2 separate regions of the Homo sapiens genome follow, and region 2 is linked to region 1. The links come from fine-mapping of genetic effects on gene expression. A gene starts in region 1. The other region holds a variant in brackets. All regions are shown on one strand. Distances are between the middles of the regions. Region 1 holds the start of GSPT1 (G1 to S phase transition 1). Region 2 holds the start of BCAR4 (breast cancer anti-estrogen resistance 4).

What was found. PIP is the estimated chance that this variant, and not a neighbour inherited with it, causes the effect. A credible set is the group of variants that fine-mapping cannot tell apart.
Region 2: its variant is the best candidate, but not a certain one, in a credible set for the expression of GSPT1 in monocytes after Pam3CSK4 (Quach 2016, PIP 0.63).

The regions. Positions count from the first base shown.
Region 1 is chr16:11,912,048-11,921,301 of GRCh38, reverse strand. It overlaps GSPT1 (G1 to S phase transition 1), which reads left to right and starts at 5,346. Exons shown (of 15, transcript NM_002094.4): 1 at 5,346-5,933. The coding sequence starts at 5,582. RefSeq lists enhancers at 3,406-3,906, 5,207-5,356, 4,965-5,902 and silencers at 4,957-5,016, 5,727-5,796, 5,887-6,126, 6,167-6,216.
Region 2 is chr16:11,823,481-11,832,734 of GRCh38, reverse strand. It overlaps BCAR4 (breast cancer anti-estrogen resistance 4), which reads left to right and starts at 3,903. Exons shown (of 3, transcript NR_131222.1): 1 at 3,903-4,036. The variant G/TG (reference allele first, on the strand shown) is at 4,670.

The DNA.
Region 1 (9,254 bases):
GGATTACAGGCGTGTGCCACCACGCCCAGCTAATTTTTGTATTTTTAGTAGAGACAGGGTTTTGCCATGTTGACCAGGCTGTTCTCGAACTCCTGACCTCAGGTGATCTGCCTGCCTCGGCCTCCCAAAGTGCTGGGCATCAGCCACCGCACCCTGCCTAATGATGCAACTCTTGATGGGCTCCTAGAAGACGACTGGTCACCAGAAAGGCCAAGTCATGATTAGAAGCTTGGAACTTTTAGCCCCACATCCAACCTCTCGGTGGGCAGAGGGGCTGAAGGTTGAGTTAATCAGCAACGGGCAATGATACAATCAGTCATGGCTATGTAGGGAAGCCTCCATAGAAACCCAGAAGGACAGGGTTCAGAGAGCTTCTGGGTTGCTGAACACGTGGAGGACCCTTGAGGATGGCACACCTGGAGACAGAATAGGAACTGTATGCCCCTTCCCAGCCCTGTGCATCTCTTCCACGTGGCTGTTCCTCTGTATCCTTTGTAATGTCCTTTATGGGTAACTGTAAGTAAAGTGTTTCCTTGAGTTCTTTTTTTTGAGACGGAGTCTTGCTCTGTTGCCCAGGCTAGAGTGTGGTGGAGCACTTGGCTCACTACAACCTCTGCCTCCCATGTTCGAGCGATTCTCCTGCCTTCAGCTTCCTGAGTAGCTGGGAATACAGGCACCCACCACCACAACCGGCTAATTTTTGTATTTTTTTGGTAGAGACAGGGTTTCACCATGTTGGCCAGGCTGGTCTCAAACTCCTGACCTCAGGTGATTCGCCTGCCTCGGCCTCCCAAAGTGCTGGGATTACAGGCATGAGCCACCGTGTTTGCCCTGTTTCCTTGAGTTCTGTGAGCCACTCTGGCAAATTCCCTGAACCCATGGAGGGGGTCATGGGAACCCCCAATTCATAGCCAGTTGGTCAGAAGCACAGGTCACAATGTGGAACCTGTTATTGGCATTGGAAGTGGGGGCAGTCTTGTGGGACTGATCCCTTAACTTGTGGGATCTGTCCTAACTCTGGTTAATGTCAGAATTGAGTGAAATGATTGCTTATCCTGTTGGTGTCTGTTGAAGAATTGGTTGGTGGTGGGTAGAAACTCCCTCACTTACTGGTGGAGTACAACTGGCCCTTAAACAATGTGAGCCTGAACTGCGAGGGTCCCACTTACACATGGATTTTTTTTTTCAATCAAATGAGGATCAAAAAGACGGGATTCTCAGGATGCAGGAACTCAAGTGTAGGGAGGGCTGACCTTTCATACACACAGTATAGATTGTGGGATTTTAGTATGGTTGGATTTTTGTATCTGAAGGGCTCCTGGAACTAATCCCCTTCCTCTACCCAGAGAGGACTGTACTCTGTGTTGAGCGGTGACTTGTGTGTGAGAGTAGGAAAAACTCTGATTTTTCCTAAGTTTTCTAAATTATTAGTCCTGGGGTGGGGTGTGGTGGCTCATGCCTGTAATCCTAGCACGTTGGGAGGCTGAGGCAGGAGGATCACTTGAGGTCAGTAGTTCCAGATCAGCCTGGGCAATATGGTGAAACCCTGTCTCTACTAAAAATAGAAAAATTACCAGGGGGTTGGGGAGGGGGGGTGGCGGGCACCTATAATCCCAGCTACTCAGGAGGCTGAGGCAGGAGAATTGCTTGAACTTGGGAGGTAGAGGTTGCAGTGCGTGAAGATTGCTCCACTGCACTCCAGCCTGGGCAACAGAGCAAGACTCCATCTCAAAAAATAAAATTAAATTAAATTAAAATAGCTAAGTGCGGTGGCTCACATCTGTAATCCTAGCACTTTAGGAGCCCAAGGCAGGCAGATCACTTGAGATCAGGAGTTTGAAACCAGCCTGGCCAACAAGGTGAAACCCTGTCTCTACTAAAAAAAAATACAGGCCAGGCGTGGTGGCTCACGCCTGTAATCCCAACAGTTTGGGAGGCCAAGGAGGGCAGATCACAAGGTCAAGAAATTGAGACCATCCTGGCCAACATGGTGAAACCCCGTCTCTGTTAAAAATACAAAAATTAGCTGGGCGTGGTGGTGCACACCTGTAATCCCAGCTACTCAGGAGGCTGAGGTGGGAGAATCGCTTGAACCTGGGAGGTGGAAGTTGCAGTGAGCTGAGATCATACCACTGCACTCTAGCCTGGGCGACAGAGCGAGACTCTGTCTCAAGAGTCTCAAGTTATTTAAAAAATAAATAAATAAATAAAATTATTAGCCCTATGTGTCAGCAGTCTTAAATGAGTATCAAAGGACAGTATCATCCCAGCTAAATTGATTAAGCACCTTTTATACACCGGGCATTACACTAGGCAGTGGAAATGTAAAGAAGATTAAGGTAAGACCCTGCCCTCAAGTCGCACAACTTACACACAACTTAGCACAACTAACAAGAAAGACTTTTCCCTTTTCCGCTGGAGCTCTGTTTGGCAGGTCAAAGCTTTGGAAAACCAATGGAGTGGATTTTTTCCTGAATATCCATAATTATCCTATTCAGAGACAAGGAAATTAATGACATCAACTGCTTTTCTAAGCAGCAGTCTGAGCAGTTTCTGCCTTTGTCCCTAGAAAAAGTACCAGGCAGAAGGAAACTCTGCTAATTCAATTAGATGTGAAGAACTAACCTATGAGAAAGTGATCATTCAGTGCTGTAGGAGTGCTACATGGAGGAGAGTAGTATTCAAAGACAAAATGCTTAGAGAAGGATGTGTAGTTCATTATTTGAGTCAGCTGATTGTGTTGACATTTTCTTAGGGGTGGGTGGGTGGGGAGTGAAAATCTGGAAAGAGAAGGCATTTCATTTAGAACACATTGTATTTTTTCTTGTGAATATAAGATGAAAATCTTTTATTCAATAGCAATACAGGTCTCGCATAAATGAAGTTCTAATTTTCATAACAGTTGTTAAGTTCTCTGTAAATCTGACAGTCACTTAATACCAACTTTAAAATGGACATTGTTAAGTATGATTCAGTGAGGTCTTCAGGTATAATAATAGGCTATAACCAAAACTTCCTATTAAGCAGAGGCAAACTCTGCCGGGTGTGGTGGCTCACACCGATAAGCCCAGCACTTTGGGAAGCTGAGGCAGGTGGATCGCTTTTTTTGTTTGTTTTTTGAGACAGAGTCTCGCTTTGTCGCTCAAGCTGGAGTGCAGTGGCGCGATCTCGGCTCACTGCAGGCTCCGCCTCCTGGTTTCACGCCATTCTCCTGCCTCAGCCTCCTGAGTAGCTGGCAATACAGACGCCCGCACACCACGCCCGGCTAATTTTTTGTATTTTCAGTAGAGACAGGGTTTCACCGTGTTAGCCAGGATGGTCTCAATCTCCTGATCTCGTGATCCGCCCACCTTGGCCTCCCAAAGTGCTGGGATTACAGGCGTGAGCCACCGCGCCCGGCCTAACTTGTATTTTTAGTAGAGACGGGGGTTCCACCACGTTGGCCAGGCTGGTCTCGAACTCCTGACCTCACGTGATCCATCTGCCTCGGCCTCCCAAATTGCTGAGATTACAGGTGTGAGCCACTGCGCCTGGCCGGTATGTGTTTTTTTAATCCCTAAAGCTTGGTAGTTTAATATTAAATTCAAATTACTGTAGCCTAGGACTCTTTTGAAAAATACTTGACAGCTTCGTTTTTGACCTATCTCATTAGGCTGAGTTCTCTTTTATCTTTACAATACAGATGTTTAAAATTAAAATACAGATCGGCCGGGCGCGGTGGCTCACGCCTGTAATCCCAGCACTTTGGGAGGCCGAGACGAGCGGATCACGAGGTCAGGAGATCCAGACCATCCTGTCTAACACGGTGTAAACCTCGTCTCTAATAACAATACAAAAAAAATTAGCCGGGCGTGATGGCGGGCGCCTCTAGTCCCAGCTACTCCGGAGACTGAGGCAGGAGAATGTTGTGAACCCGGGAGGCGGGCTTGCAGCGAGCCGACATCGCGCCACTGCACTCCAGCCTGGGCTACAGAGCAAGACTCCGTCTCAAAAAAAAGAAAAAAGAAAATTAAAATACAGATCTAGATCTGGATTTTGTTAGGTTTTTTTTTTTTTTAACAACCTAAGGTTGTTCAGAAACATCTATTCTATGTATGTGCTTCTTTAGTCTGTAATTTCTAGGCAGATTAGTTGCACCCTGTCTAGACTCCTTTCAGAAAAATACTAACAATATGTTTTTCTCTGTCTTGGGCTCCACATGGGTGAATTACAGGAAAGCTTAACAGGTACTCAGAGCAACATTTTTTCCTACTTCATGAAGGGCCTAAATGCGAACTCTTAAGTATTTCTCGTTTGCTTTTGTTCTTTTCCCAGGTTTACCTAATCTGTAAGTGTAAGATGCAGTCGATGAAAAGTACTATGGGAATTCTTGAGCAAATCAGACCATTCAAAAGGAAACCACTTCACGTAATGGTGCATAAGGAAGCTAGACTCACCAAAATAACCCTGTTAGGTAAGCCGGATACACCATGGAATACGGCAATCCTCTGTTTAATTTGCAAACCCTTTGGCGGGGAGGAGGAAAGGATGGAAAAATTTGGGTGAAGGCTTTATATGACTAGTCAAACAAACGGTGAGTCATTGAAATTTTCCAGTTAACAATCCCTTCTGCCTGGGCAGAGCCTGGGCCCCAGCGCTTTATGAGCCACACTGCAGTTTTAAGCCGGAATATCTCACGGTTTTATTGTTTCTTCCACGAAATGATTACATAAAATGAAATCAGCTTTGCAATCTGCACCGGCTTTGAAATGAAGGGCAAAATCTGGCTGGGGGTGAGGAGAAAGAAGGTGGAGAGAGAATAAGGTACGGAGACTGTGAGGCAGAGAACGCAGGAAAGGTGGTGAAAAGAGAGTACAAGAATTTTCGGGAGCTGAGTGTATTTTTCTTCCCCATGTTATAGATGCTGTCCGTTTTCCCCCAGCCTGTGTCCAGCAGGCCAGAGTGGACCCCTCCTATGGGCTAAAATACTCTCGGTCTTCGGCCCAGCACAGAGCTGCACCAACCAGGGCCTGCCGCTGCCCCCCCACCAGGTGACAGGTGGGGCCGCCGAGCGGCCACCAGACCTCCGCCTCCTCGCGTTGCCTGCCGGGAGCCGGAGCCGCTTCCGGTTGCGCCCTGTCCCTGAACTTCGACTCCCGTCGGCCCCCGGGAAAACCGCAGCGGGGTAGCGCGGGCGCTGCCGGAACTTGTAGTTCCACCTCCCGCCGCGCTAAATAGCCGGAAACGGGGGCGGCCAGAACAGAGAACTACCGAGGCGAAGGTACGGGTGGCGGCGAGGGGTCAATCCGCGCCGGGGGTGGGGTTGGCTGTGAGGCCGTCGGAGGTGGTTGGGTGGGAGGAGATCCGCTCACACACACGAGGAGGAGGGTTGAGCTGCCGCCGCCGCCGCCTCTGTCGTCGTCGCGAGTGTGGAGTCGGGACTGGAGCTGCTGCCGCGGCGACGCCGGGGATCTTTGTCGCTAGCTCCCGGCCCTTCTGCCCCGCCGCCTTCCCTCAGTCAGCGTTGCCCACTCCTCTCCGGCCGGGCGCCCCTGCCTCCATTTCCCGCTCTCTGTCCACCACACACACGGCCCCCCCGATCATGGATCCGGGCAGTGGCGGCGGCGGCGGCGGCGGCGGCGGCGGCGGGAGCAGCAGCGGCAGCAGCAGCAGCGACTCGGCGCCTGACTGCTGGGACCAGGCGGACATGGAAGCCCCCGGGCCGGGCCCTTGCGGCGGCGGCGGCTCCCTGGCGGCGGCGGCCGAGGCCCAGCGGGAGAACCTCAGCGCGGCCTTCAGCCGGCAACTCAACGTCAACGCCAAGCCCTTCGTGCCCAACGTCCACGCCGCCGAGTTCGTGCCGTCCTTCCTGCGGGGCCCGGCAGCGCCGCCACCCCCAGTTGGCGGCGCCGCCAATAACCACGGAGCCGGCAGCGGCGCGGGAGGCCGTGCGGGTAAAGGCCCGGGACGCGGGAGGAAGTCCGGCCGGGCGCCGGAGCCCACATGGCGTAGGGGTGCGGTCCGGGGGCGCGCGGCCCTGGGGCCCGGTCGGCACGTGGGGCGCTGACAGTGGCGCCGTCTGCCTGGGTGGGGCGCCCCGAGCCCGGGAGCCGGCCTTCGCGGGGCGGCCCGCGGCGGTGGCCGGGCGGGGAGCGGACAGCGGGCAGCGCGCCCAAAGACCCGGACCCGAGTGCCGCCCCTCCGCGCCCCTGCCCTGCTCTGGAGTCCGCAGTTACCCACTTGAGATGGGAACCGTATGGAACGGAGTGGGGGCCGCGGCGGATCCCTGCCACGAGGCGCAGAATGAGGACAGATGGAGCCAGGAGTCATTTGGGTGGGCGTTTAGAGATCCCAGGAGTTGGGGAGGACGAATGGCCGAGTTTTCCTTTCACCTTAGGCCCAGCCGAGAGAGCGTCTTCTGCTGCGTTTTCTACTATTGAAACTGTAATTACGGTTTAAACTGTCCGTGGCCCCCAACCGTCCTGAAGGAATCCCAAGATGCATTGCAGCCTTGTGATCGGGCAGAAACTTGGCTATCAATACCAAGATCTGTTTTACCCTTAGCATTGTGTACGCTTCTAAAGTTTACAAAGTGCCACAAAGTTAGGATTCCTCACTTAATGTGTGATAGGAGACTATATTGATTTGTGTCTTTTTAAAGTGAAGCTTACACTTTTATCCTTTGTCAGCGACACGTTTAGAGAATTTTCATTGCTGTAAAATCGTTGACCTTATTCAGATTGCTTGGAATAACTCACTGTGTTCGTGCATCAGTAGTTCAGTCTATTTCTTCAGACACTTGAGCATTTGTTATAATTTAATAGTTCTCACGTGTCTTTCTGACCGTAGCTAGTAGACATACATTTTCTAATCCATAAAATTTCGAGTTAACTTTGGTTTTTAAACATCTTCCCGTACTTAGGGGTTGCTTAAGTCGTAGGTAGCATGCTTGCAGGTGCTGACGTTGTAGGAATATCCGGTGAGTGAACTTATGTATTCTCATAATGGTGCTTATTTTGTGGTAGGTAGCTTGCTTTCAGGTACTGATTTTGTGGGAATGTCAAATGAGTGAACTTAAGTATTCTCTTCCTAATGGTGCTTATTTTAGGAACTATCAGTGTTTCCTTAAAGAGAAAATGAAAAAGGAAGGAAAAGGCTGAACGTCCTTTCATCATTTAGCCAGGACGTTAGTGGGGTGGGTCATGACATCCAGCGCATTTTAAGTGAGAACATATTGTTGATTTCTCTCTTTAAAGTTCTGTATTGTGGTGGTTCTTAGATAAGTGGACATTATAAAAGTGCTCCAGGAGTTTGGTTTCTACAGAAACTTTTGTCACCGTTTGCTCTTTCGTGGTAAAGGGATAGTGTCTGGAGAAACACTCTGATGACGTATGTACGTCAGCACGGTTGATTTGGTGGTTTTGTTGACAGTGGCATTTATTTGTGTGGGTGGTTGATGTTTTCTTTTGAGGAGATCGAGCACTTTCAGGGTGGTACGGCTCTAGACAATGTTTTCCTCTTGAATAAGGAAGCTTAGCTTGTAATTCTTGACTTACATCAAGCCATTTTGACTGCCTAACCTAGTTCACTTCTCAGCTCCTAAAAGTGCCCATTCCCTACCTTACTTTGCAGATTCCGTTTATCCAGCCATTTTCTTTCTTGGCTCTTCCTCCTTTCTGTGGAGCCACCAGCACCACTCTGACTAGACTCAGGACTCCATTTACAGCCTGTCCAGCGAGTCATCCGGGGATAACCAACCTTGGTCTAGAATGGTCACTGTTGGTGACTAGGTATTACCTCTTATGCGGGCTTTCTCTCTTCCTGATAGTTGCTAATTTGTAGTTACACCTAATCTTTTTCTCTTTGACAGTGCTAGAAATTGGAGATGCGAAAACCTGTAGGGAAGTAGCTGTCAGTAAGAGAATCCGTACAGCATGGTCAACTTTCTTGTTTTTAATCAAAAAACTATTTTGGTGTTACCGACTTTACCAATTGCTTGTACCAAAATGCCAGTTCATGTTTTTAAAAAATTATCCTATGTAGGATGTCTATTTGGAAAAGAACTGATTTTCTAAGTTGAGGTCCAGGGTTATATTGAGACTGTTGGATTGCATGTTCCAGACTATTAAGTCCATAAAAAGCCAGCATCGGAGAACAATCAGTGCTTATAAAAAGCAGGGGGATAAATAGGAAATAACACCTGGATTGGAACTTACAAAGGGGGAACCAAAAAGTTTGCAAGGTTTTTTTGATAGCGAGGAAGTGGACAATAGGGCTAGCATGTTCTGTTCTTTAGTTAAGCCATAGCCGAAATTTGTGCTGGGTGTGTTTTTAAACTGCATGCCGGGAAAGCTGTTGAAGGAGCCTGGAGAGTCAGACCTTGGGATTCAGTATTGACCTTGGATCTCTTTGAAAACTAAAGAATATAGGTTCCTTAAGAAATAATTAAGTGGAACCCATTTAAGTGTAATTAAGTGTAATTCATTTAAGCACAGTTCTCTAGAGCCAAGTAAATTGGCCAAGAGATTCTCCTTAAAAAGTGAGGTCCCCAAGTGAATAAAAATATAGAAGACAAGGCTTAATGTATATTAGAACAAGCATTTTATCTGATAGGATGTATTTAAGTTGCAATTTGCACCTAGTTTTTTTTATTGTTAGATAAGAAACTGGTTTAGTAATTTTAGGGTTACTTGAACTTTTTAGAACAGCCAGAGCTTCTAAAGTAATGATGTGGTGTTCTTTGCATCATCCCACCTTTAATGCTTCTCAGAACTCACTGCCATTAAGAAACAAGCATGGAATAAAACCAGCAGCCCTCAGTACTTACTTGGAGGAGGCACTGTCTCCAAAACTTAGCAGATTGTATTGTGGAACTTGAATTTTAAAGAGAAACATTCTGTTTTGTAGTGTTCCGTATTTGCTGAATGCCTTATTTATTGGAAGAGGAGGTTTTTTTTTTGTTTTTTTTTTTTTTTGAGACGGAGTCTTGCTCTGTTGCCCAGGCTGGAGTGCAATGGCACGATCTCGGCTGACTACAACCTCCTCCTCCCAGGTTCAAGCAATTCTCCTGCCTCAGCCTCCCGAGTAGCTGGGATTACAGGCACCTGCCATCATGCCCAGCTATTTTGTGTGTGTGTGTTTTTGCAGGGATGGGGTTTCACCATGTTGGCTAGGCTGGTCTTGAACTCTTGACCTCAGGTGATCTGCCCGCCTTGGCCTCCCAAAGTGCCGGGATTACAGGTGTGACCGCGCCTGGCCTTTTTTTTTTTTTTTTT
Region 2 (9,254 bases), 89 kb after region 1:
TCCTGGGTTGAAGCGATTCTCGTTCCTCAGCCTCCTGAGTAGTTGGGATTACAGGCGCACACCACCACGCCCGGCTAATTTTTGTATTTTTAGTAGAGACGGGGTTTCACCATGTTAGTCAGACTTGTCTAGAACTTCTGACCTCAGGCGATCCGCCCGCCTCAGCCTCCCATAGTGCTGGGATTACAGGCGTGAGCCACAACATCTGACCAGTTGCTACACTTTTAAACTTAGATTGTGCATTTTGGGGGACGTGGTGATGGAAATAATGGGAAGGCTGGCAAATCTCCTACAAGCCGCCCCTTTTCTACTGAATGGAGCAATGGGCCTCAGAAACAGAAATGAAAGAACGTGGCTGGAAGTGGTGGCTGACGCCTGTAATCCCAATATTTAGGGAGGCAGAGGTGGGGAGATGAGGAGTTCGAGACCAGCCTGGCCAACATGGCGAAACCCCATGTCTACTGAAAACACAAGAATTAGCCAGGCCTGGTTGTGCACGCCTGTAGTCCCAGCTACTCAGGAGGCTGAGGCAGGAGAATCGCTTGTGTCTGGGAGGCGGAGGTTGCAGTGAGCCAAGATCGCACCACTGAACGGCAGCCTGGACAACACAGCAAGACTCCATCTCAAAAAAAAAAAAAATGATAAAATGTAACTAACTGTACCCAGCAAAACAAGGACCATTCAAGCAGACCTTAAGAGCTCCTGCTGGGCATGGTGGCTTATGCCTGTAATCCCCACACTTCGGGAACTCGAGGCAGGAAGATCACTTGAGCACAAAAGTTTGGGAACAGCCTAGGCAACATAGCCGGCCCTTGTCTCTACAAATAACTAAAATACTGGCCGGGTGATCAGTCACAGTGGGTCACCCCTGTACTCCCAGCACTTTGAGAGGCCAAGGTGGGCAGATCACTTGAGGTCAGGAGTTCGAGATCAGCCTGACTAATATGGTGAAACCCCATCTCTACTAAAAATACAAAAATTTGCCAGGCATAGTGGTGTGTGCCTGTAATCCCAGCTACTTGAGAGGCTGACGCAGGAGAATCGCTTGAACCCAGAAGGCAGAGGTTGCAGTGAGCCGAGATCGCGCCACTGCACTCCAGCCTGGGCTGGGCGACAGAGTGAGACTCCGTCTCAAAAAAAAAAAAAAAAAAAGAAAAGAAAAAAAAAAGAAAGGATCACATTGTATTTCAGTCTCCTTGAAAATACGAAAATGAGGGTACCAAGAAGTTGCTAAGTGTCATCCTATTCGTAACACCTGGCCAAAAAACCCTTGCTCTATTTTCCATATATGGGTGTTTAAGAGCAAAGAATTCTTGCCATTTAGTTAAATATTTGAAAGTTCTGCACTCCCTACATTTTTTTTTCTGAAATTGTTACGATTTTTCTTGCCTACAGATAGTATTAATATTCAAATACCAAGATTCCCAATTTGGACTTTATGAGCCACGAGAAACCTTCATCAATCCTTGGATCCTAAGGAAATTAGTGCAACTGATCGAAGACCATGAATAAAATTTTGGTTATAGGGATCATTTCAGTATAGTGGTCCTGGAGAGAAAAAATGGCAAATTATTTAGGTGGCTCTACTTAACCCCAGATTATAACACTGCAGTCCAGCACTTAAAATGATTAGTATCGGCTGGGCGCGGTGGCTCACACCTGTAATCCCAGCACTTTGGGAGGCCAAGGCAGGTGGATCACGAGGTCAGGAGTTCGAGACCATCGTGGCCAATATGGTGAAACCCCATAAAAACACAAAAATTAGCCAGGTGTGGTGGCACGCGCCTGTTGTCCCAGCTACTCAGGAGGCTGAGGCAGAAGAATTGCTTGAACACAGGAGGCGGAGGTTGCAGTGAGCCGAGATCGTGCCACTGCACTCCAGCCTGGGTGACAGAGCCAGACTCCATCTGAAAAAAAAAAAGGAAAGAAAAATAAATAAAAGATTAGTATCACCTGCTTATATAACTCAGCTGGGTCATTTTCTTTTTTCTTTTTCTATTTTTTTTTTTTTGAGACGGAGTCTTGCTCTTGTCAACCATGCTGGAGTACAATGGTGAGATCTCAGCTCACTGCAACCTCCGCCTCCTGGGTTCAAGCAATTCTCATGCCTCAGCCTCCTGAGTAGCTGGGATTATAGGTGCACACTACCACGCCCGGCTAATTTTTATATTTTTAGTAGAGACGGGGTTTCACCATGTTGGCCAGGCTTGTCTAGAACTCCTGACCTCAGGCGATCCGCCTGCCTCAGCCTCCCACAGTGCTGGGATTACAGGCGTAAACCACCACACCTGACCAGTTGCTATGCTTTTAAACTTAGGTTGTGCATTTTGGGGGATGTGGTGATGGAAATCATGGGAAGGTTGGCAAATCCTCTCCAAGCCACCCCTTTTCTACTGAATGGAGCAATGGACCTCAGAAACAGAAATGAAAGAAAGTGGCTGGACGTGGTGGCTGACGCCTGTAATGCCAGTACTTAGGGAGGCAGAAGTGGGGAGATCACCTGAGGTCAGGAGTTCGAGACTCAGCCTGATTAGCCGGGCGTGGTGGCTCACGCCTGTAATCCCAGCACTTTGGGAGGCCAAGGCAGGCAAATCAACTGACGTCAGGAGTTCGCGACCAGCCTGACCAACACGGAGAAACCCTGTCTCTACTAAAAATACAAAATAAGCCGGATGTGGTGATGCATGCCTCTAATCTCAGCTACTTGGGAGGCTGAGGCAGGAGAATTGCTTGAACCTGGGAGGCGGAGGTTGCGGTGAGCCAAGATCACGCCATTGCACTCCATCTCGGGCAACAAGAGCGAAACTCTGTCTCAAAAAAAAAAAAAAAAAAATTAGCTGGGCGTGGTGGTGCACACTTGTAGCCCCAGCTATTTTGGGAGCCTGAGACGAGAATCGCTTGAACCCAGGAGGCGGAGGTTGCAGTGAGCCGAGAAGGTGCCACTGCACTCCAGCCTGGGCGATAGAGGGAGATTCCATGTAAAAAAAAAAAAAAAAAAAAAGTATCTCATTATGTTGTCCAGTTTGAACTCCTGGCCTCTAGTGATCCTCCCACCTCAGCCTGCCAAAGTGCTGGGATTATAGGCATGAGCTACTGTGCCTGGCCAGTGCTTATTTTTTCTCTCCAAAATGGGATTAGTATCACAAAATATTTTCATGCCTTCTGCACCCTTTAGTCTGTAAATAAAACCTGTAAATAATAATAATACATATAGTTCCACTTCCAAGCATAAGCACAGTTAATATTTAATATCTTGATTTTTTTACAGTATTTTTTCCTGTGCTTATTTTTCTTTTCTTTCTTTCTTTTTTTTTTTTTTTTTGAAACAGAGTCTCGCTTGGTCGCCCAGGCTGGAGTGCAGTGGCGCGATCTCAGCTCTCAGCTCTCTGCAAGCTCCGCCTCCTGGGTTCACGCCATTCGCCTGCCTCAGCCTCCCGAGTAGCTGGGACTACAGGCGCCCACCACCATGACCGGATAATTTTTTGTATTTTTAGTAGAGCTGGGGTTTCACCGTGTTAGCCAGGATGGTCTCGATCTCCTGACCTTGTGATCCACCCGCCTCGGCCTCCCGAAGTGCTGGGATTACAGGCGTGAGCCACCGCGCCCGGCTCCTGTGCTTATTTTTCTCCCTTTGTTTCCTTCTGGTCTATATTTTCCAAGATTCCTTCAATGATATGATTTTGTAGTGAACAAATGCCAGCCCTCCTTCAACTCATCCCTCTGAAATGTCTATTATTGAGAGCATGATAAAAATATTTAAAGATTTCTGGTGGGGGCAGGTGGTATTTCTGAAAAATGCACACTCCTGGTCCTGCTGCAGACCTGCTTAACTGGAATTACTGTATACATGCGGGACTTAGGAATCTGTGTTTTGACCAAGAGGCCAGGTGATTCTTCTGCTCAGTTAGTGCTGGGAAACAGTGCTAAGAAGGATACAGTGGCTAGAAGTCGTCCTGTCGTCCTGCCTCACAGTAACATCGTTACCGAATTCTCAGCAGGTGAACCAAATGAAATGGTCAACTGAAAGCCAACCAGGGTAAAACAGATCTTTTATTTCTTGTTGTTGTTATTATTATTTTTTTTTATGTGGGGACATTCAAGTGAACTGCTATATGCATTTGCCCCCAGTCTCTCCTTGTGAGAAGTGAATTTCTTCAACGTTTATAGAACTGAGGTATTACATTATTGGATGAATTAAGAAAACAATCTAACCTGATGTGTGAAAATTTCTGCTTGTGAGAATCCGTGTTATTTCAATTATCCAATCAAGAGCCTAATTCGTATAAAAGAAACACAGCAGCTTGTTGCTCATCTTTTTATCTAAGGACGGTTTGTCTTGACAGAGGGTGTCTGGCTGTTTTGGGGAAACTATTCCTGACCTTATTTTGACTAAAAAGTTGCCTGCTGTACCAGGTGAGAGAAGCTATCATTTCTTTTATAAAACTTTTAGCTTGCTTTTTGTTAAGTGTGTTTGAAAGTCACTTAAAAGACTGACTTAAATATGAATATTGTTAGTCGGGCTGTATATTTTTTTTATATTAAGTTATGATTTATATTTCTTCAGAGATCTAGTCTCTTGTTGATCTCCCTTGACTATTTTTCTGTTAGGCTGTTGGATTTCTCTTTTTTTCTTTCTTTTTATTTTCTTTTTCTTTTTTTTTTTTTTTTT[G/TG]AGACAGGGTCTCTGTTGCTCAGGCTGAAGTGCAGTGGCATAATCTCAGCTGACTGCCTCCTGAGTAGCTGGGATTACAGGCATGTGCCACCATGCTCTGCTAATTTTTGTATTTTTATTGGAGACGGGATTTCACCATGTTGGCCAGCCTGGTTTTGAACTCTTGACCTCAAGTGATCTACCCTCCTTGGCCTCCCAAAGTGTTAGCATTACAGACGTGAGCTATTGTGCTTGGCTTTTAAAAAATTTTTAGACTTTTAGTAGAGACAGGGGTCTCACTAAGTTGCCCAGGCTGATCTCTTTTTTTTTTTTTTTTTTTTTTGAGACAGAGTCTCACTCTGTCGCCCAGGCTGGAGTGCAGTGGTAGGATCTCGGCTCACTGCAAGCTCCGCCTCCCGGGTTCACGCCATTCTCCTGCCTCAGCCTCCCGAGTAGCTGGGACTACAGGTGCCTGCCACCACGCCCAGCTAATTTTTTGTATTTTTAGTAGAGACGGGGTTTCACCCTGTTAGCCAGGATGGTCTCGATCTCCTGACCTTGTGATCCGCCCGCCTCGGCCTCCCAAAATGCGGGGGTTATAGGTGTAAGCTACTGTGCCTGGCCCTAAACTGGTTCTTGAAAAAGGTGGCAGATCAATACGCCCCTGCAAAGCAGGGGGAAAAAACAAACATTTGCTATTTAATAACCTAGGCAGGAAAGATAAGCTAAAAAAAATCAAAGAGAATTATTCCTATTTCATACCAACATTCTCTTTTTTTTTTTTTTTGAGACGGAGTCTCACTCTGTCGCCCAGGCTGGAGTGCAGTGGCGCGATCTCAGCTCACTGCAAGCTCCGCCTCCCGGGTTCACGCCATTCTCCTGCCTCAGCCTCCCGACTAGCTGGGATTACAGGCGCCCGCCACCACCCCAGGCTAATTTTTTTGTATTTTTACTAGAGACGGAGTTTCACCGTGTTAGCCAGGATGGTCTCGATCTCCTGACCTCGTGATCCGCCCGCCTCAGCCTCCCAAAGTGCTGGGATTACAGGCGTGAGCCACCGCGCCCGGCCCATACAACATTCTTAAGTCTAGATAATGGGAACTAATAAGTTCCCAAAACTGAATGAAGAGACAAAAACCTAAAAACTGGAAGAGAAAAGACAGTGAGATTTCACTTAATATTGTGGGCCAGGTGCGCTGGCTCACATCTATAGTCCTAGCACTTTGGACGGCTGATGTGGGTGGATCCCCTGAGCTCAGACCAGCCTGGGTAACGTGGCAAACCCCGTGTGTACTAAAAATACAAAAATTAGCTGGGCAAGGTGGCTTAGTCTCAGTCACTCTGGAGGCTGAGGGAGGAGGATCACTTGAGTGTGGAAGGCGGAGGTTGCAGTGGGCCGAGACCACGCCAATGCACTGCCAGCCTGGATAACAGAGCAAGCAAGATCCTATCTCGAAAAATAAAATAATATCATGCATACAAATCTTGAGTTGTTGCCATTATAATTCAAAGATTCCCAATTCATTCTGCGAAAGTAATTTTTTCGGTACTCAAACCTAGTAGTTTTCTTCGCCAGAAAAACTCCTATCACCTGGTCTTAAGATAAATGTAAGATACCACATACTGCTTAACCAGGATAATAACAGCTTAGGAGAGCTTATCTGAGGAATGTAAGGATGGCTAAACATTAGGGAATCAGAAACAAAAATTGTTAGTAAACTAAAGAACACAGCATAGTTAGCCAGAAATGCTAAGAAAATTCAGCTACAAAACTTACCAGCAATTTAGGGTTAAAACATCATATGAAATGGCAAATTAATAAAATGGTGCCATTAACGGTGAGTTCAAACCTAAAAGGCCAATATTTGTCATTGTTTTCATTAGTGTTTTTTTTGTTCCTACATACTGTAAAATTTTGTGACAAATTCTGTTCCACCTAGTATTTAACCTGACACCTAAAATGTTTAGTGTATACAGTTGCAAAGACATAATTACTTGCCATTGTGTAAATAGTGATCTTTGAAACTAAAACTATTCCATTCTCAAATACATCTGTTGGACTCTAAATACCTAAGGGAGTTGATCGTCACCATCACCCACTTAAAGAAAACACCTGGGCCACATGTGGTGGCTCACACCTGTAATCCCAGCAGTTTAGGAGGCCGAGGCAGGAGGATTGCCTGACCCTAGAAGTTTGAGACCAGCTTGGGCAACAAGGTGAAACCCCGTCTCTACAAAAACATACAAAAAAAATAAGCCATGGGTGGTGGCAGGCGCCTGTAGTCCCAGCTACGTGGGAGGCTGAGGTGGGAGGATCACTTGAGTCTGGGAGGCAGCAGTTGCAGTGAGCTGACATTGCGCCACTGCACTCCAGCCTGGGGAACAGAGCAAGACCCTGTCTCAAAAACAAAACAAAACAAAAAAACCGGTTGGGCGCGGTGGCTCACGCCTGAAATCTCAGCACTTTGGAAGGCCGAGGCGGGCAGATCACGAGGTCAAGAGATCAAGACCATCCTGGCCAACATGGTGAAACCCTGTCTCTATTAAAAATACAAAAGTTACCCAGGCGTGGTGGCACATGCCTGTAGTCCCAGCTACTCGGGAGGTTGAGGCAGGAGAATCACTTGAACCCAGGAGGTAGAGATTGCAGTGAGCTGAGATCACACCACTGCACTCCAGACTGGCGACAGAGTGAGACTCCGTCCCAAAAAAAAAGAAAAAAAGCAAGGTTTTACCATTTTTTCTCTTTGAATTTTTTTTCACTCCAGTTGTCCACATGATTTTATATTAATGTAGTATTATTTTATTTTTTTTGAGACAGAGTTTTACTCTTGTTGCCCAAGCTGGAATGCAGCGGTGTGATCTCGGCTCACTGTAACTTCTGCCTCCAGTGTTCAAGCGATTCTCCTGCCTCAGCCTCCTGAGTAGCTGGGATTACAGGCATGCGCCACCATGCCTGGCTATTTTTATTTTTGTATTTTTAGTAGAAATGGGGTTTCACCATGTTGGACAGGATGGTCTCGAACTCCTCGCCTCAGGTGATCCGCCCACCTCGGCCTCCCAAAGTGCTGGGATTACAGGCATGAGCCACCACGCCCGGCCATTAATGTATTATCTTTATGCTTAGCTTTCATTCAGTATTCATTTACTGCTTGAAAAACCTAAGACTTCATACTATGTTGGGCAGAGTTACTCTTACCACTTATCTCTTCAGGAAAGATGATTGAATAGTAGATGTTCTCAGGTTTTCACTCCGTAAATGACTTTTGCCAGTGCATTAAGAAAAACAATTGATTTGGAAGTTGGCTATTAATCCAATTAATTAGAAGCCAAGCCTTTTTCCACAGGGCCTGTGATGTGTTGATAAAATGCCACACAACCATTTCTCAGTGAAAAGCCCAACCGGGACTTGAGTTATGTTGGTGGCTATGGAGTTCTGCAATCCACAATTGATGTTCTCTAATAACCAGTGACCTTGAGTGAACTGTCCCCAAGGCAAGAGCAACCACAGCTGCGGGGAGCGTTTGGCAATCACTATCCCCACCCAAGCTTCTCCCTTGGTAAACTTTGTACCTACTGGGTCCTCATGCTGGTGGAAAAGAAAATACATTTCCTTCTCGTGACTGTCCCCTCTCCTTCAAGTCAATGTTCTTAATCTTTGACCTTGGATTTCATCACTTGTCACTTGTTTTTGTTTGCTTCTTCGGGATTTTTTTTTTTTTGAGATAGAGTCTTGCCATGTTGCCCAGGCTGGAGTGCAGTGGTGTGATCTCAGCTCACTGCAACCTCTGCCTCTGGGGTTCAAGAGATTGTCCTGCCTCAAGCCTTCTGAGTAGCTGCAACTACAGATGTGGGCCATCATGCCTGGCTAATTTTTGTTTTTGTTGTTGTTGTTGTTTGTTTTTTTGAGATGGAGTCTCACTCTGTCACCCAGGCTGGAGTGCAATGGCGTGATCTTGGCTCACTGCAACCTCCGCTTCCTGGGTTCAAGTGATTTTGCTGCCTCCGCCTCCTGAGTAGCTGGGATTACAGGTGTGCGCCACCACACCCAGCTAATTTTTATATTTTTAGTAGCGACGGGGTTTCACTATGTTGGCCAGGCTGGTCTCAAACTCCTGACCTCAAGTAATCTGCCCGCCTCAGCCTCCCAAAGGGCTGAGATGACAGGCGTGAGCCAATGCACCTGGCCTAATTTTTGTATTTTTAGTAGAGAATGGATTTCACCATGTTGGCCAAGCTGGTCTCAAACTCCTGACCTCAAGTGATCCTCCTGCCTCGGCCTCCCAAAGTGCTGGGGTTGCAAGCATGAGTCACTATGCCTGGCCTTGAATTTCATCACTTGTACCTAAAGTATAAAAACATAGATTTACCATCAAATAGTAATGGTGCTTCAGGAAGAAGTTAAGCCTACTTCAAGTACCTTTGGCCTTGTACTTCAGTTTCTTCTTCTTCTTCTGTTTTTGAGACAGAGTTTTGCTCTTGTTGCCCAAGCTGGAGTACAATGGTGCAATCTTGGCTCACCACAACCTCTGCCTCCCGGGTTCAAGCGATTCTCCTGCCTCAGCCTCCCAAGTAGCTGGGATTACAGGCATGTGCCGCCACGCCC